Regions from separate parts of the Homo sapiens genome. Here all the other regions are linked to region 3. The links come from fine-mapping of genetic effects on gene expression. A gene starts in region 3. Each other region holds a variant in brackets. All regions are shown on one strand. Distances are between the middles of the regions.

What was found. PIP is the estimated chance that this variant, and not a neighbour inherited with it, causes the effect. A credible set is the group of variants that fine-mapping cannot tell apart.
Region 1: its variant is the best candidate, but not a certain one, in a credible set for the expression of PLIN4 in whole blood (TOPMed, PIP 0.56).
Region 2: its variant is the best candidate, but not a certain one, in a credible set for the expression of PLIN4 in whole blood (INTERVAL, PIP 0.79).

What each region holds. Positions count from the first base shown.
Region 1 is chr19:4,542,996-4,550,421 of GRCh38, reverse strand. It overlaps SEMA6B (semaphorin 6B), which reads left to right. Exons shown (of 17, transcript NM_032108.4): 12 at 150-299; 13 at 1,977-2,159; 14 at 2,249-2,395; 15 at 3,953-4,030; 16 at 4,148-4,206; 17 at 5,893-7,426. The coding sequence ends at 6,821. Among named protein-coding and RNA genes, the nearest start is that of LRG1, 6.7 kb to the right of the region's middle. The variant C/T (reference allele first, on the strand shown) is at 3,767.
Region 2 is chr19:4,359,289-4,365,660 of GRCh38, reverse strand. SH3GL1 (SH3 domain containing GRB2 like 1, endophilin A2) reads left to right here. Exons shown (of 10, transcript NM_003025.4): 4 at 36-179; 5 at 1,440-1,573; 6 at 1,783-1,941; 7 at 2,188-2,291; 8 at 2,925-3,049; 9 at 3,276-3,332; 10 at 3,865-5,291. The coding sequence ends at 4,061. MPND (MPN domain containing) reads right to left here. Exons shown (of 13, transcript NM_001300862.2): 13 at 5,583-5,745. The coding sequence ends at 5,659. Among named protein-coding and RNA genes, the nearest start is that of MPND, 19 kb to the right of the region's middle. The variant C/T (reference allele first, on the strand shown) is at 2,704.
Region 3 is chr19:4,515,262-4,522,687 of GRCh38, reverse strand. PLIN4 (perilipin 4) reads left to right here and starts at 4,202. Exons shown (of 8, transcript NM_001367868.2): 1 at 4,202-4,303; 2 at 4,399-4,466; 3 at 4,990-5,134; 4 at 6,010-6,071. The coding sequence starts at 4,416. It overlaps PLIN5 (perilipin 5), which reads left to right. Exons shown (of 8, transcript NM_001013706.3): 8 at 1-157.

The DNA.
Region 1 (7,426 bases), 28 kb before region 3:
GCCTGGGCGACAGATTGAGACTCTGTCTCAAAAACAAAACAAACAAAAAACCTGAGGGTCGTTGGGCAAAGCAATGGGTACCTCTGGTGAATCAGGCCCCTTTATGAGAACCTTTACGTTCGTCCTGACCACACCCTTGTCACCCCCAGGCCCGGGTGCTGCGCAGCCCCCGGGATGCAGTACAATGCCTCCAGCGCCTTGCCGGATGACATCCTCAACTTTGTCAAGACCCACCCTCTGATGGACGAGGCGGTGCCCTCGCTGGGCCATGCGCCCTGGATCCTGCGGACCCTGATGAGGTCGGTCCTGGAGAGGCAGGGCATGGCGAGGGGAGACAGGATGGGGTAGATGGAGGGTGAGAGGATCCAGATGCTCAACACAGATGAGCCCATGGCTTCCGGCGCTGCCCAGAGAGCTGGAGACACAGAGAGACAGAGAGGGAAAGATGGAGAGACACTAGGAAAGAGAGAACAAAGAGAGAGACAGAGGGATCAAGAGGTGACAGATGGGGCTGGGCACGGTGGCTCATGCTTGTAATCCCAGCACTTTGGGAGGCCGAGGCTGCCAGATCACCTAAGGCCAGGAATTCGAGACCACCCTGGCCAACATGGAGAAACCTCGTCTCTACTTAAAATACAAAAATTGGCCGGGCATGGTGGCTCACGCCTGTAATCCCAGCACTTTGGGAGGCCGAGGCAGGCGGATCACGAGGCCAGGAGATGGAGACCATCTTGGTTAACACAGTGAAACCCCGTCTCTACTAAAAATACAAAAAATTAGCTGGGCGTGGTGGCAGGCGCCTGTAGTCCCAGCTACTCAGGAGGCTGAGGCAGGAGAATGGCATGAACCCGGGAGGCGGAGCTTGCAGTGAGCCAAGATCACGCCACTGCAGTCCCGCCTGGGCGAAAGAGCGAAACTCCGTCTCAAAAATAAAATAAAATAAAATACAAAAATTAGCCAGGCGTGGTGGTGGGCGCCTGTAGTCCCAGCTACTCGGGAGGCTGAGGCAGGAGAATCACTTGAACCCGGGAGGCGGAGGTTGCAGTGAGCCGAGATCACGCCACTGCACTCCAACCTGGGGCCAGAGGGAGACTACACCTCAAAAAAAAAAAAAAAAAAAAAGAGGTAGACAGACAGACACACACCAGGAGAACAAAGGGGGAAAGAGACAGAGAGACAGGGAGAGAGACAATCAGAGACAGACAGACACCCAGAGAGACAGAGATAGGGAAGAGAGACAAAGAGAGAAAGAGACTGAAAGATACACAGACACACATACATATCAGGAGAAAGCGGGGCTGGGCACAGTGGCTCATGCCTGTAATCCCAGCACTTTGAGAGGCTAAGACGGGAGGATCACTTGAGGTCAGGAGTTTGAAACCAGCCTGGCCAAATGGTGAAACCCTGTCTCTACTAAAAATACAAAAAAAAGAAAATCAGCTCGGTGTGGTGGTGTGCGCCTGTAGTCCCAGCTACTTGGGAGGCTGAGGCAGGAGAATCGCTTGAACCCAGGAGGCGAGATCGAGCCACTACACTGCAGCCTGGGCAACAGAGTGAGACTCTGTCTCAAAAAAAACAAAACATAAACTTGCCAGGCGTGATGGCGTGTGCCTGTAGTCCCTGCTACTCAGGAGGCTGAGGCAAGAGAATTGCTTGAACCCGGGAGGCGGAGGTTGCAATGAGCTGAGATTGCGCCACTGCACTCCAGCCTGGGTGACAGAGTGAGACTCCATCTCAACCAAAGAGACAGGGCTGAGGAGAGCCTGGTTTGGGGTTATGTTTCAAAAAAGGGCGAGTGTGCCCACGTGCCTGTGTAGTCACGCATGTCCCCGGCATCCATGCACACACGCATTTATTGCTGTCACATGTGTTGGTGTGTCAGTGTCTGTATGCACCCGTGTAACTATGGCCATGCCCGTGTTGGTGGCATGTGGTGATATGGGGCCAGCCTGACCCTCCCCTGCCCTGTCCCCCAGGCACCAGCTGACTCGAGTGGCTGTGGACGTGGGAGCCGGCCCCTGGGGCAACCAGACCGTTGTCTTCCTGGGTTCTGAGGCGGGGACGGTCCTCAAGTTCCTCGTCCGGCCCAATGCCAGCACCTCAGGGACGTCTGGGCTCAGTGTCTTCCTGGAGGAGTTTGAGACCTACCGGCCGGACAGGTAAGTCTGGGCAAAGGTGGGAAGGGGTCGCCAGCAGGAGGGGAGATGGGCTGAGATGCGCTCAGCCTCACCACTCTGCTTGTCCCCAGGTGTGGACGGCCCGGCGGTGGCGAGACAGGGCAGCGGCTGCTGAGCTTGGAGCTGGACGCAGCTTCGGGGGGCCTGCTGGCTGCCTTCCCCCGCTGCGTGGTCCGAGTGCCTGTGGCTCGCTGCCAGCAGTACTCGGGGTGTATGAAGTGAGTGTCCACCCCAGGCCAGCCGTGGGCGGGAAGCAAGGGAGGATGGGCACAGGGAGGGACAGCTGGGTTCCAGTCAAAAGCCCAATGATGTCCTGGTCATTGAGCTGGGCAGAGGGCATGGCCCGTGCAAAGGCCCGCGGGCAGGACCACTCCTGGTGTGTTGGAAGAACAGCAAGGTGGCCGGTGTGGCTGGAGCACAGTGAGCAAGGGGGAGTGAGGGAGGAGGGGAGGACGGGGAGGGGATGGGAGAGGACGAGGCAGTTTGTGCAGAGCTTTGTGAGCCTCGGGGAGGACTTGGGCTTTGACCTTGAAGGAGATGGGAGCCATGTAGGGTTGCAGGCAGAGGAGGGACTGGCCCTGACTCAGGTGCTTACAGGTGCCCTCTGGTGGCTGCTGCCAGGAGGAGACTGCAGGGGAAGGAGAACCAGGGACCAGGGTGGAGGCTGTTTCCCCGTCTCTAAAATGGGAGGAAAGCTAGGATGCATGCCAGTGCTGGCACACGCCTGCACTCCATGTGAGCCGTCAATGCGGAGGACCCTGCTTCCTGCCCGCCGTTATTGCAACAATGACCCAGTAGCTCCGAGTCCAAGGGCACAGCCTCTGGCACGATGCCTGGGCTCCCATCTCAGCTCTGCCACTTGGGCAAACATTTACTTTCTGGAGCGTCAGTTTGCTTATCTGTAAAGTGGGGAGTGAACAGTGCCCTGCACACAGATTTGTTCTAAGGACTCCAGAAGTTGCTATTAAGAAGAGGGACTGGGCTTGGTAGCTCACGTCTGTCATCCCAGCACTTGGGAGGCCAAGGCAGGAGGACTCCTTGAGCCGAGGAGTTCGAGACCAGCCTGGGCAACACAGCATAGTGAGAGCCTGTCTCTAAAAAAAAAAAAAATGCAAAAATCAGCTGGGCGTGGTGGCACACACCTGTGGTCCCAGCTACCCAGAAAGCTGAGGCAGGAGGATCACTTGAGCCTGGGAGGTTGAGGCTGCAGTGAACTATGATCATGACACTGTACTCCAGCCTGGGTGACAGAGCATGACCCTGTCTCTTAAAGAAAAAAAAAATTAAATTTTAATTTAAAAAAATTTTTTTAATTTTAAAATAAGAAAACGCCAGCCGTGGTGGCTCACACCTGTAATCCCACCACTTTGGGAGTCCGAGGCGGGTGGATCACTTGAGGTCAGGAGTTCAAGACCAACCTGGTGAAACCCTGTCTCTGATAAAAATGCAAAAATTAGCTAAGTATGGTGGCGCGTGCCTGTAATCCCAGCTACTCGGGGGGCTGAGGCAGGAGAATCGCTTGAACCCGGGAGGCGGAGGTTGCAGTGAACCAAAATCCCGCCACTGCACTCCAGCCTGGGCGACAAGAG[C/T]GAAATTCCATCTCAAAAATAACTAAATAAATAAACAACAAGAGCGAAATTCCGTCTCAAAAATTAATTAATTAAAATAAAAATAAAGAGGCAGGTGCTTGGAACAGGGCCCACAGGTCACCATCACCATTGGGGTTGTGTAAGTGACTTGGACACTTGTCCCATTCGGTCCCTGGTCTGCTCTAGGAACTGTATCGGCAGTCAGGACCCCTACTGCGGGTGGGCCCCCGACGGCTCCTGCATCTTCCTCAGCCCGGGCACCAGGTACTGCGGGAGAGGGAGGTGGGTGGAGGGTGTGTCAGACCCGCCCATGATCCCAGATCCCCCTGATCTCTGACTGTGAGAGGGGCCTCTGCTGACGGTGCCTCCTCTCCCCATTAGAGCCGCCTTTGAGCAGGACGTGTCCGGGGCCAGCACCTCAGGCTTAGGGGACTGCACAGGTGAGTTGGGGGGACGGCAGGCTAAGACCCCCATCCCCCACTACCATGGGGGAGGGGAGGGAGGAGGCTGGAGGACCCTCGAATCCTCTGGGAGGTGGGTGGGGAAACTGGACTCCATCAGAGAACTTTAGAAAGGCATGGGGTGGGCCGGGCGCGGTGGCTCACGCCTGTAATCCCAGCACTTTGGGAGGCCAAGGTGGGTGGATCACGAGGTCAGGAGATCTAGACCATCCTGGCTAACACGGTGAAACCCCGTCTCTACTAAAAATACAAAAAATTAGCCGGGCGTGGTGGCGGGCGCCTGTAGTCCCAGCTACTCGGGAGGCTGAGGCAGGAGAATGGCGTGAATCCGGGAGGCAGAGCCTGCAGTGAGCCAAGATCACGCCACTGCACTCCAGCCTGGACGACAGAGCAAGACTCCGTCTCAAAAAAAGAAAAGAAAGGCATGGGGTGGTCTCATCTCATTTATTGGGGAGGGAGATAGGGGAAGAACAGAGACACCAAGAAACAGGCAGGCTTTGGCAAGGACGAAGAGACAACAGAAGGCAGACAGACCAACTTCAACAGGACAGAAGGGGCCAGGCGCGGCAGCTCCTGCCTATAATCCCAGCATTTTGAGAGGCCAAGACAGGACGATCACTTGAGGTCAGGAGTTTGAGACCAGCCTGGGGAATATAGTGAAACCCTGTCTCTAAAACAAAAACCCAAAAATAATCCAGACGTGGCAGTGCATGCCTGTAGTTCCAGCTACTTGGGAGGCTGAGGCGGGAGGATCGCTTGAGCCCAGGGAGGTGGAGGCTGCAATGAGCTGTGATCAGGCCACTGTACTCCAGCTTGGGCAACAGAGTGAGAACATGTCTTTTTTTTTTTTTTTTGAGACAGAGTCTTGCTCTGTCACCCAGGCTGGAGTGCAGTAGTGTGATCTCAGCTCACTGCAACCTCCACCTCCCGGGTTCAATTGATTCTCCTGCCTCAGCCTCCCAAGTAGCTGAGATTACAGGCGCACACCACCATGTCCGGCTAAAATTTGTATTTTTAGTAGAGATGGGTTTCACTTGTTGGCCAGGCTGGTCTCAAACTTCTGACCTCAGGTGATCTCCTGCCTCAGCCTCACAAAATGCTAGGATTATGGGTGTGAGCCATCATGCCTGGCCCAGATCCTGTCTTTAATAAAACAAACAGGTAGCTGGAGGCAGGGTTGCAGTGAGCTTTACCACTGCACTCTAGCCTGGGGGACTGTCTCAAAACAAACAAACAAAAAAAATTAAAAAATAATAAAAATAAGGCCAGTCGTGGTGGCTTATGCCTGTAATCCCAGCACTTTGGGAGGCAGAGGTGGGCGGATCACAAGGTCAGGAGTTCAGACCAGCCTGGCCAACGTGGTGAAACCCCATCCTACTAAAAATACAAAAATTAGCCGGGCGTGGTGGTGGGCACCTGTGGTCCCAGCTACTCGGGAGGCTGAGGCAGGAGAATCACTTGAACATGGGAGGCGGAGGTTGCAGTGAATCGAGATCGCCCCACTGCACTCCAGCCTGGCACACAAAGGAAGACTCCTTCTCAAAAAATAAATAAATAAAAAAAAATAAAAATAATAAAAAAGAGGACAGAGGGCCCCGAGGAGGTAGGAGGGATGCCCAGGGCCACCCCGCCGGCCCCACTAACCCCCCTGTGCTCCCCGGCCAGGACTCCTGCGGGCCAGCCTCTCCGAGGACCGCGCGGGGCTGGTGTCGGTGAACCTGCTGGTAACGTCGTCGGTGGCGGCCTTCGTGGTGGGAGCCGTGGTGTCCGGCTTCAGCGTGGGCTGGTTCGTGGGCCTCCGTGAGCGGCGGGAGCTGGCCCGGCGCAAGGACAAGGAGGCCATCCTGGCGCACGGGGCGGGCGAGGCGGTGCTGAGCGTCAGCCGCCTGGGCGAGCGCAGGGCGCAGGGTCCCGGGGGCCGGGGCGGAGGCGGTGGCGGTGGCGCCGGGGTTCCCCCGGAGGCCCTGCTGGCGCCCCTGATGCAGAACGGCTGGGCCAAGGCCACGCTGCTGCAGGGCGGGCCCCACGACCTGGACTCGGGGCTGCTGCCCACGCCCGAGCAGACGCCGCTGCCGCAGAAGCGCCTGCCCACTCCGCACCCGCACCCCCACGCCCTGGGCCCCCGCGCCTGGGACCACGGCCACCCCCTGCTCCCGGCCTCCGCTTCATCCTCCCTCCTGCTGCTGGCGCCCGCCCGGGCCCCCGAGCAGCCCCCCGCGCCTGGGGAGCCGACCCCCGACGGCCGCCTCTATGCTGCCCGGCCCGGCCGCGCCTCCCACGGCGACTTCCCGCTCACCCCCCACGCCAGCCCGGACCGCCGGCGGGTGGTGTCCGCGCCCACGGGCCCCTTGGACCCAGCCTCAGCCGCCGATGGCCTCCCGCGGCCCTGGAGCCCGCCCCCGACGGGCAGCCTGAGGAGGCCACTGGGCCCCCACGCCCCTCCGGCCGCCACCCTGCGCCGCACCCACACGTTCAACAGCGGCGAGGCCCGGCCTGGGGACCGCCACCGCGGCTGCCACGCCCGGCCGGGCACAGACTTGGCCCACCTCCTCCCCTATGGGGGGGCGGACAGGACTGCGCCCCCCGTGCCCTAGGCCGGGGGCCCCCCGATGCCTTGGCAGTGCCAGCCACGGGAACCAGGAGCGAGAGACGGTGCCAGAACGCCGGGGCCCGGGGCAACTCCGAGTGGGTGCTCAAGTCCCCCCCGCGACCCACCCGCGGAGTGGGGGGCCCCCTCCGCCACAAGGAAGCACAACCAGCTCGCCCTCCCCCTACCCGGGGCCGCAGGACGCTGAGACGGTTTGGGGGTGGGTGGGCGGGAGGACTTTGCTATGGATTTGAGGTTGACCTTATGCGCGTAGGTTTTGGTTTTTTTTGCAGTTTTGGTTTCTTTTGCGGTTTTCTAACCAATTGCACAACTCCGTTCTCGGGGTGGCGGCAGGCAGGGGAGGCTTGGACGCCGGTGGGGAATGGGGGGCCACAGCTGCAGACCTAAGCCCTCCCCCACCCCTGGAAAGGTCCCTCCCCAACCCAGGCCCCTGGCGTGTGTGGGTGTGCGTGCGTGTGCGTGCCGTGTTCGTGTGCAAGGGGCCGGGGAGGTGGGCGTGTGTGTGCGTGCCAGCGAAGGCTGCTGTGGGCGTGTGTGTCAAGTGGGCCACGCGTGCAGGGTGTGTGTCCACGAGCGACGATCGTGGTGGCC
Region 2 (6,372 bases), 160 kb after region 3:
TCACAGCCCACACCCACCTGGCCATCCTATCCCAGCCTCGCGGGCTAAGCTGACCATGCTCAACACGGTGTCCAAGATCCGGGGCCAGGTGAAGAACCCCGGCTACCCGCAGTCGGAGGGGCTTCTGGGCGAGTGCATGATCCGCCACGGGAAGGAGCTGGGCGGCGAGTCCAACTTTGGTGAGTGGTGCTCTCTGGAAGCCACGCCCACCGTCCCTGGAGGCCACACCTCAACACAGGCAGGGCAGGTCCAGGCCCTGCATGTGCTGAGTGCCGGGGACGTACAGTGGCCCCCACAGCTTTCCAGCTGCAGAGGTGCAGGAGACTGCACAGACCAACCCATCCAGCACTGGCCAGCAGCTGATAGGGCCCCTTCCTGTAGCTCCAGACCTTCCCCAACTCAAGCCAGCTGCTTCCCCAGGGCCTGGACCCCCCAGCATCTGTCCTTCCACCTGTTAAGGGCAAACCTAGGCCCTTTTAGGAGCATTGGAGGGTCTGGTTTAACGTCCAGCATCGATTCGGATTTTAGGATCCTTTGTTTTGCCCTGAGTTCCAATTTCCGGGCCCTGGGCTTAGAGTGTTGGGGGGCTGTTAGAAGTTGGGATGGGGCCAAGTGTGGTGGCTCATGCCTGTAATCCCAACACTTTGGGAGGCCAAGGCAGGTGGATCACCTGAGATCGGGAATTCGAGACCAGCAAGACCAATATGGAGAAACCCCACCCCGCTTCTACTAAAAAAAAAAAAATATATATATATATATATACACACACACACACACACACACACACACACACAATTAGCCGGGTGTGGTAGTGCATGCCTGTAACCCCAGCTACTCGGGAGGCTGAGGCAGGAGAATCACTTGAACCCAGGAGGTGGAGGTTGCAGTGAGCCGAGACTATGAAAAAACAAAACAAAACAAAACAAAACAAAAACCGGGTGCGGTGGCTCACGCCTGTAATCCCAACACTTTGGGAGGCCGAGGCGGGCGGATCACAAGGTCAGGAGTTCGAGACCGGTGTGGTCTATATGGTGAAACCCCGTCTCTATTAAAAATACAAAAATTAGCTGGATGTGGTGGCAGGCCCCTGTAATCCCCCTTACTCAGGAGGCTGAGACAGGAGAATTGCTTGAACCTGGGAGGCAGAGGTTGCAGTGAGCTGAGATCATGCCACTGCACTGCAGCCTGGGCAACAGCGAGACTTCATCTCAAAGAAGTTGGAAAGGATCCAGGTGTGGGGGTGAACGCCTGTGGTCCCGGCTACTTGGGAGGCTGAGGTGCCAGCATGGCTTGAGCCCAGTTTGAGGCCTGCAGTGAGCTGGTACAGCGCCACTGCGTTCCAGCCTGTGAAACGCTATTTCAAAAACAAAGGCTGAGGAGTGTCTCAGTCTAGTGGTCCCAGGCCCGGTATGATGGCTTCCCCCACCACTTCTCCACAGGTGACGCATTGCTGGATGCCGGCGAGTCCATGAAGCGCCTGGCAGAGGTGAAGGACTCCCTGGACATCGAGGTCAAGCAGAACTTCATTGACCCCCTCCAGAACCTGTGCGAGAAAGACCTGAAGGAGATCCAGGTGCTGCTCCTGCGCCAGCCTGGGGCCTGTCCCTTCCCCCTGCCGGATGGGGCAGCCCCATTCCTGCCACCCTCACCTCCAGCCTCGGCACTGCCCTCTGGGTCTCAGGCAGGCAGGATCCCCAGTGGTGCAGGGACAGTGGGTCAAAGCCATGCGTGGGGCGGCCCTCTGGCCGCTACTGGTGTGACCCATGTCCCCCACGTCTCCAGCACCACCTGAAGAAACTGGAGGGCCGCCGCCTGGACTTTGACTACAAGAAGAAGCGGCAGGGCAAGATCCCCGATGAGGAGCTACGCCAGGCGCTGGAGAAGTTCGAGGAGTCCAAGGAGGTGGCAGAAACCAGCATGCACAACCTCCTGGAGACTGACGTGAGTAGCTCGGGGTGTCACATCCTGAGAAGACCTATGCCCTTGGGAGGCCGGGGTGGTGCCTCAAGGGAGCTGGAGGACAGATCGGCACCTACCTGGCCGCTGCAGCAGGGGAGGTGGAGGGTATGGGCCCCAGTCCCCTGTCCCCTCTCAGCCCCCTTGCCTCCTGTGGCTTCACCTCGGGAGTCAGGGAAGGCACAGGACAGTGGCACTGGCAGGAGCCCCTGAGCCCTACTGTCCCCACAGATCGAGCAGGTGAGTCAGCTCTCGGCCCTGGTGGATGCACAGCTGGACTACCACCGGCAGGCCGTGCAGATCCTGGACGAGCTGGCGGAGAAGCTCAAGCGCAGGTGAGCCCAGGGCCTTGGTCTCTCCAGAGTCTGGGCTGCCATGCGCCCTCTGCCAGCGCAAGTGGGCAGCACACCTCGCTGTGGGGTGAGCACATGGCAGAGCAGCATCCTGGATTCTTCCTGGGGACTGAGTGGAAAGGCCTGGGGGGCCGCGAGGTCAGAGGAGCTGGGGCTCTGAGAACTCTGAGTCAACACCCAGCCCTGCCCCGATGCAGGCCCCGGGGACTCCCTCCCTGGCTGCACGTTGCTGCTGCCACAGGAACACCCAGGCTCCCCTCCCTGAATGCAGAGGCCAGACCTGCTTCAGGGGCCTTGGCGTATGTGGGGCGCCGTCCGTGGTGGGGAATTGGGGGAGGAGGCAGGGGATGCGACTGGGGGTGTTGTAGGTAGATGCTGTGGCAGGCCCCAGCTG[C/T]TTGGCAATCTCTGGGATGCCTCCAAGGTGGGGGTCCAGGCTGGAGGCCCTCTGGGTAGACATCCCAGTCTAGCTGTGTCCCAGGGTCCATGTGTCACAACCCCACTGACGGCCTCTTCCTGCAGTCCCAGGCCAGGTCATTAGGCAGCAGCATAAATACAAGAGTGGGGCTGCCTCGGCCGTGACACGGGCTCGGTCCACTCACGCCTCTCCCTTCACAGGATGCGGGAAGCTTCCTCACGCCCTAAGCGGGAGTATAAGCCCAAGCCCCGGGAGCCCTTTGACCTTGGAGAGCCTGAGCAGTCCAACGGGGGCTTCCCCTGCACCACAGCCCCCAAGATCGCAGGTAATGGGGCATGGAGCCCTCTTGCGGAGGCAAATGCCAGCGGGTGGGAGTGGCCAAGGGCTGGCCCTGTCCTGGGTCTCTGAGCGCCAGACTCCTGGGTGCAGCTCTCAGCCGTGCTCCATCTGGACCGCCAAGGCAGACGGGAAGGGCTGGCCCCAGCCTTCTGCAGAAGGGGCCCTGCCCGACCGTTTTGAGCCCACAGCCTCCTCGTTTTGCTTGTGTTTAGCTTCATCGTCTTTCCGATCTTCCGACAAGCCCATCCGGACCCCTAGCCGGAGCATGCGTGAGTGTTCCCAGGCCCGCCTCGACCTCAGTGCTGCCTTCTCGGCCATTCGGGGAGGGTGTTTCTCCTCCCGCCCTGTTCTCTGCCCATCTCAAGCAGGGAGGGGCCAGGCTCGTGCAGCAGTAGGGGGCACAGGCCCCACAGCCTGCAAGATGCCACCCCTCTGGGTCTCAGCCTCACAGTGTGAATGAGGGATTGCCAAGGGCACTAGCCCAGCTAGCTCTAGGCTGTGTGGTGGCTACAAGGGCTTGAGGGCATCTGGTCACTCCCTGTCACCGCAGCAGCACCGGGTGTCCCCAGCACTTCCCAGGAGTAGCTTTGGTGACCACTTAAACCAAGCTTCTCCCATCCTCCCTCCTGGGTGGCAGTAGAGGCCGGACCCCAGAAGTGGCAGGGGCAGGGGGTGGCCCAGGCAGGGCAGAGGGGAGGCCCATGCCCACCCACACGCTCCAGGTCACAGCAGGTCTGAGACCCCAGACTGGGCGGGGTGAGGCGTAGCAGCCCCAGCCCCACAGCCCGCTCCCGCCCCCAGCGCCCCTGGACCAGCCGAGCTGCAAGGCGCTGTACGACTTCGAGCCCGAGAACGACGGGGAGCTGGGCTTCCATGAGGGCGACGTCATCACGCTGACCAACCAGATCGATGAGAACTGGTACGAGGGCATGCTGGACGGCCAGTCGGGCTTCTTCCCGCTCAGCTACGTGGAGGTGCTTGTGCCCCTGCCGCAGTGACTCACCCGTGTCCCCGCCCCGCCCCTCCGTCCACACTGGCCGGCACCCCCTGCTGGGTCTCCTGCATTCCACGGAGCCCCTGCTGCCAGGGCGGTGTCTGAGCCTGCCGGCGCCACCTGGGCCCCGGCCCTTGAGGTACTCCCTGAGCAGGACCCCACACTTGGGTGGGGGGGCTTATCTGGGTGGGTGGGGATGCCTGTTTACACTAGCGCTGACTCCCAACGGTGACGGCTCCCTTCCCCACTCCATGGCGCCAGCCTCCTCCCCCGCTCCCCAACTTCTCGCCCAGCTGGCCGAGGCGGGGCAACACTAAGGTGCTCTTAGAAACACTAATGTTCCTCTGGGGCAGCCCCCACCTCCGTCCTGACCCGACGGGGGCCCGGCCCACTGCCTACCCTCGAGTCCCGCAGCCTTAACAGGATGGGATCGAGGGTCCCCATGGGGTGGCTCAGAGATAGGACCCTGGTTTTAAATCCCTCCCAGCCTGGTGCTGGTGATGGGCCCTGGCCCTACTCCAGGGCCAATGCACCCCCGCCTCACACACGCACTCCTTCTCCTCAAGGCCAGGGCAGAGGGCCTCACCGCCTCCCGGGCCTGCTGTCAGCTTGCAGCCCGGGGACAGAGGCCAGCTGGGATCTGCCTGAGGACAGAGAACATGGTCTCCTGCAGGGCCCTGCCTCCCAAGCCCCGCCCTCAGAAAGCCAAGTACCTTTTCAGCTTTTTAACTGCCCCCATCCCAACCCAGGGAGGCCTGTGTCACTCTGGCACAAGCTGCCACCACCAGCCACCCACACCCACCCCAGCACACCTCACACGGGACCACAGCCGCGCTGCCGAGGGCCAAGCACAAAGGTTCCAGTGAGCGCATGTCCCAGCCCCTGGTGGCCAGGCTCCCCTTGCTGAGCCGCTGCCACTTCACCCTGTGGGAAGTGGCCCCAGCCATCTCCTCTAGACCAAGGCAGGCAGCCCCGACATCTGCTTCCTCTATCGCCCAATGCAAAATCGATGAAATGGGGAGTTCTCTGGGCCAGGCCACATTCACATTCCCCTCCCCCTGTGGTCCAGTGAAGCCTCCGGACCCCAGGCTCTGCTCTGCCCTGCCCTGCACCCCCCTCGTCAGAAGTACATGAGGGGCGCAGAGATGAGCACACAGCTTTGGGCACGGTCCAGGGCAAACTGAAATGTACGCCTGAATTTTGTAAACAGAAGTATTAAATGTCTCTTTCTACAGCCCCTTGCCTCGTCTTGGTGCAGGGGTGGGCCTGCCACCCACCGCCTTCCTGAGGGGCCGGCTCCAAAGCCACACACACCCCAGGAGGTCCCTCCAGCACCCCAGGTGCTCCTGAGCCCAAGGTGGGTGGGACTGGCCCTGAGGCTTTTGTGCCAGTTCCCAGGTGCAGGGGCTGAGGGGTATCCTGGAAGTTAATGCCCTGCCCTGGAAGTGAGGAAGCTGGGGTGATGGTACCAGCCTGGGCACCCAGCCACCCTCACCCCAGCCTTGGGGAGACCAGCGTGGCTGGCTGCTGCTTCCGTTTCTTTATTACCTGAGCCCATCCGGACCCTCAAGACAACTGGAGCCCACCCTGCCCTGGAAGGCTCAGCTCCCCTGCTTGAGGACGCCGCACACCTGTTCCAGGACGTGACACAGGCTCTGGTCCTTGGGCGTCCTGCTGGCCAAGGAGATCTGAAACGAGGGGGCTGGGCCTCAGGCTGTGCCCGGGGGTCCTAGCCAGCCCTGCGCCTCACAGTCCACCGTGCAAGTCCAGCATCCTGACTGAGCCCCCCTGAGACCGAGGCACAGGGCTGGGGTCCCGCAGCACAGCCTGCTGCTTACCCAGTGGGGCAGTATGTAACCGAGGGCCTGGCTCCCAGGGGCAGCGGTGCTGTGTGGAGGGGTGGGGCTTATGTGCACACTCCCGATCCTGCCCCCACTTCAGCCCCTCCCTGCCTGGTTCCAGACACCCATGGGGACACCACAGCCTCCACAGCTAGCCGAGAGCTGAGCAGAATGAGTCCCTTTCTATGCCAGGTGGAGGGAAACCAGGAACCACTACCCTAAGACACTCAGGGGTGGCCAGGACCCTGGGCCCTCTGCAGGGGAGCCACTCCCAAAACCCGCTGCCAGGACCTCATCCGGCACTGCCGGAGCTTAAAGCTCCACAGTCCAATCAAATCTGGCCTGCACCCTGCTGGGGTGGCCACGGGGTGACCAGGGTCACCAGTCTGCCAGCTGGGCTGTCTCAGGCCCCTGAGGCCCACGGGGCTCATTGCTGCCACCTTTTAGGCTGCCCAGGGGGCCTCTCCTGGGGCC
Region 3 (7,426 bases):
AAAAATACTTCCTAGGGAAACACACATTTTGCCCTATTTGGAACTTTGAAAAGTGAGCCCTCCTCTGCCCATGGGCCGTGCTGCTCAGCCTGCCATACTCGCTTGCTTTGCTGTTTGGGATTTGCCTCCAGAATAAAGGTCCTTTTTGTTGTTGAAAGGCCCACGTGTGTGTTCCAGCCAGGGTGAGTCTCAGTCCCAGGGGGCTGGGGGCCACGGAGGTGTGTCACTGCTGAGACATGGAGAAGGGGGTGTGTAGAGCCAGAGTTCAAGATCTAGAAGAATGGTGCTTCTCTGACCTGCCTGTCATCCTGTCTGGGATCCACCGTTACTGCCCAGCCCATGTGGGGTAAGCATTACCACTTAAAATTAGCCGGGCACCATGGCTCATATCGGTAATCCCAGCACTTTGGGAGGCTGAGGTGGGAGGATTTCATGAGCCCGGGAGTTTTGACACCAGCCTGGGCAACATAGGAGACCTTGTCTCTACGAAAAATTTTAAAATGACACATGGTACGAGCCTGTGCCCCAGCTACTCGGGAGGCTGAGGCAGCAGGATCGCTTGAGCCTAGGAAGTTGAGGTTGCAGTGAGCTTGGATCAGTAACCACTCCACTCCAGCCTGGGCAACAGAGTGAGACCCTGTCTCTAAAAATAAACAACAGCATTGCCCCTTTGGCCGCATGGAAGCTGTTCTCATCTTGGTACAGGTGAATTTCATGGAATTGCAGGGAGCAGAAAAGATGGGGAAGGAGTCAGATGGGGCAGCTCTCTCTCTACCTCCTGGTCCTGCAGGAGCTGGTCTTGCTGTGGTCTCTCCAGCTGCACTGGCCAGGATGGGAAGACAGAGGCAGGGCAAGGGCCATAGGCTGGTCTCGGGGGTTTCCTCCTGTCCTCTGACCGCATTCCTGGCTGCTCTTCCGACTCCCCTGGGGCTGGGCGGGGTGTTGGGAAACCACAGCTTGGTATGGTGAGGTCAGGGTGGCCCCTGACTTCCCTGGGACATAGTCCAGAGGGCAGCTCTGGGATCTCCGACCACTTCCACCAGCCAAATCTACCTCCCTGCTCCTGTTCTGGAATCTCCCACAGGTCCCCACTGCCCACAGACCAAACTCTTCACCTTCCAGCTTCCTCCTCCAGCCTGACCTGGATACTTTGCTCTCTTACCATTGAAGTGGGCACATTCCCACCTCCGGGCCTTTGCTGAGGCTGTGCGGCCACCTTGGAATACTCTTCCCACCCCCCATCCGTCCCTCGGACACATCTCATACATCCTCAAGGCCCAGCCTCAATGCCTCCTCCTCCAGGAAGGCTTCCAGGACTCCATCCCAGCCGGATACTTCCCTCCTCCGGTCCTCCACAGGCCACCTTCTCAAGGTTTCTTGCCCTTTCCACCTTGACTTTATAGCCACAGGCAGCCTTGCTCTCTCTTCCCACATGAGGCTGGGGGCTCCTGGCAGGGCCAGGCCTGTTGAGGATGATCAGAACAGCACATAGGGGTAGGCATTTTGGCAGAGGGAACAGCTTAGGGAAAGGCACAGCAGTAGGGAAATCAGTTTCACTGCAGCAGAGGTGAGGAAAAGAGAATGGGTTGAGCTAAGCCCTGGGATTTTTCTTTTCTTTTCTTTTCTTTGGGGGGGTGGGGAAGGAGTCTCACTCTGTCACCCAGGCTGGAGTGCAGTGGCGCGATCTTGGCTCACTGCAACCTCCACCTCCCAGGTTCAAGTGATTCTCCTGCCTCAGCCTCCCGAGTAGCTGGGATTACAGGCGTGCGCCACCACACACAGCTGATTTTTGTATTTTTAGTAGAGATAGGGTTTTGCCATGTTGGCCAGGCTGGTCTCGAACCCTGACCTCAGGTGATCCACCTGCCTCGGCCTCCCAAGATGCTGGGATTACAGGCATGAGTCACCGCGCCTGGCCCATTAATTCATTTAATTTTTATTTAAAGATATATTTTGGGCAGCCGGGCACAGTGGCTCATGCCTGTAACCCCAGCGCTTTGGGAGGCCGAGGCAGGTGGATCACGAGGTCAGGAGATCGAGACCATCCTGCCTAGCACAGTGAAACCCTGTCTCTACTAAAAATACAAAAAATTAGCTGGGTGTGGTGGCGAGTGCCTGTAGTCCCAGCTACTCGGGAGGCTGAGGCAGGAGAATGGCATGAACCCGGGAGGCAGAGCTTGCAGTGAGCCGAGATCGCACCACTGTACTCCAGCCTGGGCGACAGAGCGCGACCCCGCCTCAACAGAAATATATATATATAAAATATATTTTTTTTATTTATTTTTTTTTTTTTTTCTTTTGTTCTTTTGAGGCGGGGTGGCGCTCTGTCGCCCAGGCTGGTCTCAAACTCCTGTGCTCAAGCCAATCCTCCTGCCTCGGTCTCCCTAAATGCTGGGGTTACAGGGTGAGCCATGGCACCTGGCCTGAGGTATATATTTTTTAAAGGGAGAGGAGATCCAGGAATGCCTCTTTGAGGAAGTGATATTTGAGGAAAGACCTGGAAGGAGGTGAGGGATGTGGGAAAGGGTGCTGGAGGCAAAAGCAACAACCCACACGAAAGCCCTGAGGAAGGGTGTGCGGGGCTAAGCAGGCACAGTCACGTGTGTCTTTGAGGGACTCTGTCCTGGCATGTTATGGGAACAGTGAAAAGGCCCGTGTGGCTGGAGCAGAGTGAAGAGAAGAAGGAGAGGAAGGTGGGGAGCAGACGAGGCAGGTTATGCAGGGCCTACCGGGCTGCAGGAAGGGGACTTGGGCTTTGACCCTGGGCTCCCACCCCGGAGAAGGTGGGAGCCATGGAGGGTGCTGGGCAGAGGAGGGGTAGATCCTGGCTGGGATGTTTATGATCACTTTTTAATTTTTTCTCTCCACACACTGGGCTGTGGCTGCCCTTTGGGAAGGGGAGGGGCACCCAGAGCTCTCCCAGCCACCCTTGGGAAGCACTGGCTGGTAGAAGAGGTTGGGGGACACCCCCCCTTCTGTTCCCCCACTGTTTGGCAAACACAGTGTCGGCTCCAAGGAGACAGACGGCCTGGGAATCATCAGATCCTGTGGCTGTACCCTCCCTCCTCCCAGCCCAGTGCCCAGAGCCACCCATGGGGTCTGCCCTCTCACCCCCAATAACACAGGGCTAGGAACCCTGTCTCAGGGGCAGGTAGGAGGGGGACACAGCCCAGGGTGGGCGTTACGGCCATTCCTCTGCCCACCCACCCACAGACAGCCCAGCACATAGGCTGGGCTCAGCACGAAGGTCCTGGGTCTGGGTTTGAATCCCGTCCTCACCACTTCCTGGAACAGGAGGGTCTGGGTTTGAATCCCATCCTCACCACTTCTGGAACAGGACGCCTCCTCCAGGGAGCCTCCCTGGGTTGGCCCAAGCCCCCCAGGCTGGGTTTCCACTCCTAGGGTGCCCCCAGCTTGGCTGGTGCTCCATCTTGGTCTGCGTTTTGGCCCAAGTCCCTTCCGGAGAGTGATGGGCTCCCCTCCACACTGAGGACACCCCCTGCTCCTTGCCGAGACCCCGAGACCCCGCTTCTGCCTGGGTAACGCGAAGGCAGCATTTGTTCAGTGCATGACCTCATCTCACAGAGGCTCACAACCACTCTCTGTGTTGCTCCATTGAGCCAAACGTGTATTAAGCGCCAAATGTATGCCAGGCACTGTTCTGTGGGCGGAAGAGGGTGCCCTGTGGGAACCTGCAGGGAAGGTGTTCCAGGCAGAGGGCACAGCCCGTGCAGAGGCCCTAAGGCAGGACCGTGCCAGGTGCGCTGGAGGCATAGCGAGGAGGCCTGTGTGGCTGGGATGAAGCAAGCGAAGGAGGAAGCTGGGGGAGATGAGAGCAGAGAAGAAGCTGGATGTTACGGGACGTGGTGCGGAGTACGAGAGAGAAACCTGAAGCAAAAAGATGGTAACTGGCCAAGGCATCCTGGTGCAGCAGAGATTTGAACTACACCCACCTCGTGGATGGAACTGGAGGCTCAGGGGCCCGGGAGGGGAGCCCATCTGGCCTGTGAGCCACTCAGCCTGATGCAAGCTGTGGGCAGGAAACAGGGGAAAGGTGCTGGGCCTGGGCCCATGCTGGGCTGGGCAGGTAGCCATGTGACCGTCCAGGCCACCTCCCCCGGGCCCATTGGCCGCCTGCCGCTGCTGGCTGGGCCTGCGCCTGCCCCGGACCCTATAAGGCCAGGGAGCTGAGGGTAGAGCCAGCTGCCAGCCGGGCCGGTCCGTCCTCCAGGGGACCCCGCGCAGTCCAGGTGAGCGGGGCCGCGTCTGCTTCGGTGACACCAGGGTGAGGCCAGGCCTGCAGGTGGGTGTCGGGCTGCTCAGGCTTTCAGTGGGGAGTGGGTGTGGGATGGGAGGCTAGGGAACCCCCATTCACGCACCTTCTCTGCCCCCTTCCAGCTTCTCACGTTCTCACTATGTCTGCTCCAGACGAAGGGAGACGGGATCCCCCCAAACCGAAGGGCAAGGTAAAGAGGGGAAATGGGGCAGATTCTTGCTGGGGCCTGGAGATGCCCCAGAGCCGGGGAAGGTGACCTCCACAGTCCTGGGGTCTCGAATCTGGAGAGGTGCTTCCCTGGTGGGCTGGTGGGGGCGGTCTGGGAGCCATGATGCCAATCCCTTCCTTTCTGACCCAAGCTGGAGGCGGGGGACCCACGCAGACCTCGACACCTTCCCCAGCAAGTGACCTTGGGCCGGCCTCAGCTCCGCCCCTCTCTGAGCCTCAGTTTCCCCATCTGTGCAGTGGGGATCCTGGAAGGAAAAGGTCTTTGGAGATCGGGTAGACGATCTTTTCCTCTGTGCATGGGAGGCAGGCTGAGTCTGCCCATTGCCCAGGTGTGGAAATTGAGGCTGAGTGGCTGAAACACTTTCCTGAGGTCACCCAGGAGCAAGGGGCCGGGGCGGCATTGGGCTGATCAATCGATGCTTCCTCTGACCCGTTCCTGCCGAGGCTTGGCCTGCTCATCCTGCACACCCCCCGCCCCCATGCAGACCCTGGGCAGCTTCTTTGGGTCCCTGCCTGGCTTCAGCTCTGCCCGGAACCTGGTGGCCAACGCACATAGCTCGGCGAGAGCCCGGCCGGCCGCTGACCCCACAGGAGCGCCTGCTGCCGAGGCTGCCCAACCACAGGCTCAGGGTGAGTGGCTGGCCCAGCTGGGGGCGTGGGGGGACTCTACACATGGACCTGGGAGAAGGAGCTCCCCGGGCAGGGACTTCCAGCCATTTGGGGAGTCCTCCATATTTGTCTGTGTGCTCTCATCAGACACTAGGACATCTTGTGGTGGATGGGGAAACTGAGGCATAAATATGGGGGGTGAGTGGCCGAAGGTGGCTTTCAACCCAGCCTGTCTCCCTGCAATGCCCCCCCACTCAGTCCCTCGGCCGTTCCCCCACCCTGCACTCCGTTTCTGATGCACCATGGCCCAGGCTGGGTGCTCTGCCCATCTGAGCTCATCAGAGTGAGATCCAGACTCCCAGGGAGGAGCAACAGCTCCCCTGGGGTCACACAGCCCAGGGGCTCCCCAGCCTCCTGTGGCTCAGCTTGGGCGATCAGGGACGGTGACAGGGAACCCAGGGTTGGGGCAGCCGCCTGAGCTGGGCCTCCCTCTGGGCCCAGAGCCCCAGGCAGCTGACTTCTGCTCCACATGCCTTGGCCTGGCAATAGGCAGCAGGCAGCTGCGGTGGGGGCGGGGCGGGCTGGGCAAGGGGCTGTTCCCCCATGCCAGGCTATATGAACCCCGGGACTCAGGGTGGGTGTCCACCCAGCAGAGGAAGTTCCACAGAGCCCTACTTCAGGGAACAGCGGCCCTGGGCTTGGGGGGAGCCCCCAGCGGGGTTGGGGGGTGACCAGGTCTGGCTGGTAGCCGTGGATGTCACCTCCTGCTGTCCCTGGCGGGGTAGCTGAAACATTCCTGACCTTTTAGGCTGTGCCTGGCTATTGTGCAATGGGCAGCCGGGTAGATGGTTCTAACTGCATCCCTCACTCTCCCTGACCGGCCCCTGTCCCCACAGTGGCTGCCCACCCAGAGCAGACGGCCCCATGGACGGAGAAGGAGCTGCAACCTTCGGAAAAGGTGAGAGGATGTGCAGGGCAGGGTCTGATGTGGCAGGAGCCCTGGGGGTGCCCCCTCCTGCGACATTTCAGTTCCTGCTATCTGGGGGGCTGCTCCCTCCTGGGACATTTCAGTTCCTGCTATCTGGGGGGCTGCTGTGGGCCTGAGGGAAGGCAGACAGCCTGGGGATCCCAGGCGGAGCTTCCCCTCTGAGCCTCTATTTCCACATCTGTGAAATGGGTGCAGTGCTACCCCACTCTAATCACGTAAGGTTCCAGTCTACACAGGGCTGTGCCTGGCAAGATGAGACCAAAGCGACAGCAGCGTAAGCACTTTATTTCTTCTACTTTTATTTTTTGAGATGCAGTTTTGCTGTTTCACCCAGGCTGGAGTGCAGTGGCACAATCTCAGTTCACTGCAACCTCTGCCTCCCAGGTTCAAGCGATTCTCCTGCCTCAACCTCCTGAGTAGCTGGGACTACAAGTGCTCACCGCCATGCCCAGCTAATTTTTGTATTTTTAGTAGATACGGGGTTTCACCATGTTGGTTTCACCAGGCTGGTCTCCAACTCCTGACCTCAAGTGATCCACCCACCTCAGCCTCCCAAAGTGCTGGGATTACAGGCATTAGCCACTGCGCCTGGCAAGAGGATCTGTTTTAATCAGCATTTTCCAGATGAGGATATTAGCTCAGAGAGGGCATGTGGCTTGCCTAAGGCCACACAGCGAGTGTCGGGAGCAGGAGAGGGTAAAAAGCTGGGACTTGAACCTGGGTCTCTCCAACTACAGGGCCCAAGGTGCCCACCTGAGCCAAAGCTGGGAGATGTGTTCTGAGAATACAATTTCCGGGCTTCTCAACCTCAGTACTGTGGATATTTGGGGTTGGATCATTCTCTGGGGTGGGGCCATCCTGGGCACTGCAGGGTGCCGAGCAGCATCCCTGGTCTCCACCTACTCCATGCCAGGAGCCTCCCCAAGTTGTGACAACTACAGATGTCTCCAGACATCACCCAGTGCCCCCTGGGGGCAGAATCACCCAGTTGAAAACTACTGAATTAAAATAGCACCTTGGCCGGGCACGGTGGTTCACACCTGTAATCCCAACACTTTGGGAGGCTGAGGCAGGCAGATCAGTTGAGCTCAGGAGTTTGAGACCAGCCTGGCCAACATGGTGAAACCTCATCTCTACTAAAAATACAAAAATTAGCTGGGCATGGTGGTGCACGCCTGTAATACCAGCTACTCAGGAGGCTGAGGCAGAAAAATTACTGAACCCAGGAGGCGGAGACTGCAGTGAGCCGAGATCTCGCCACTGCACTCCAGTCTGGGTGACAGAGTGAGACTCTGTTTCAAAAAACAAACAAACAAAAAAAGTAG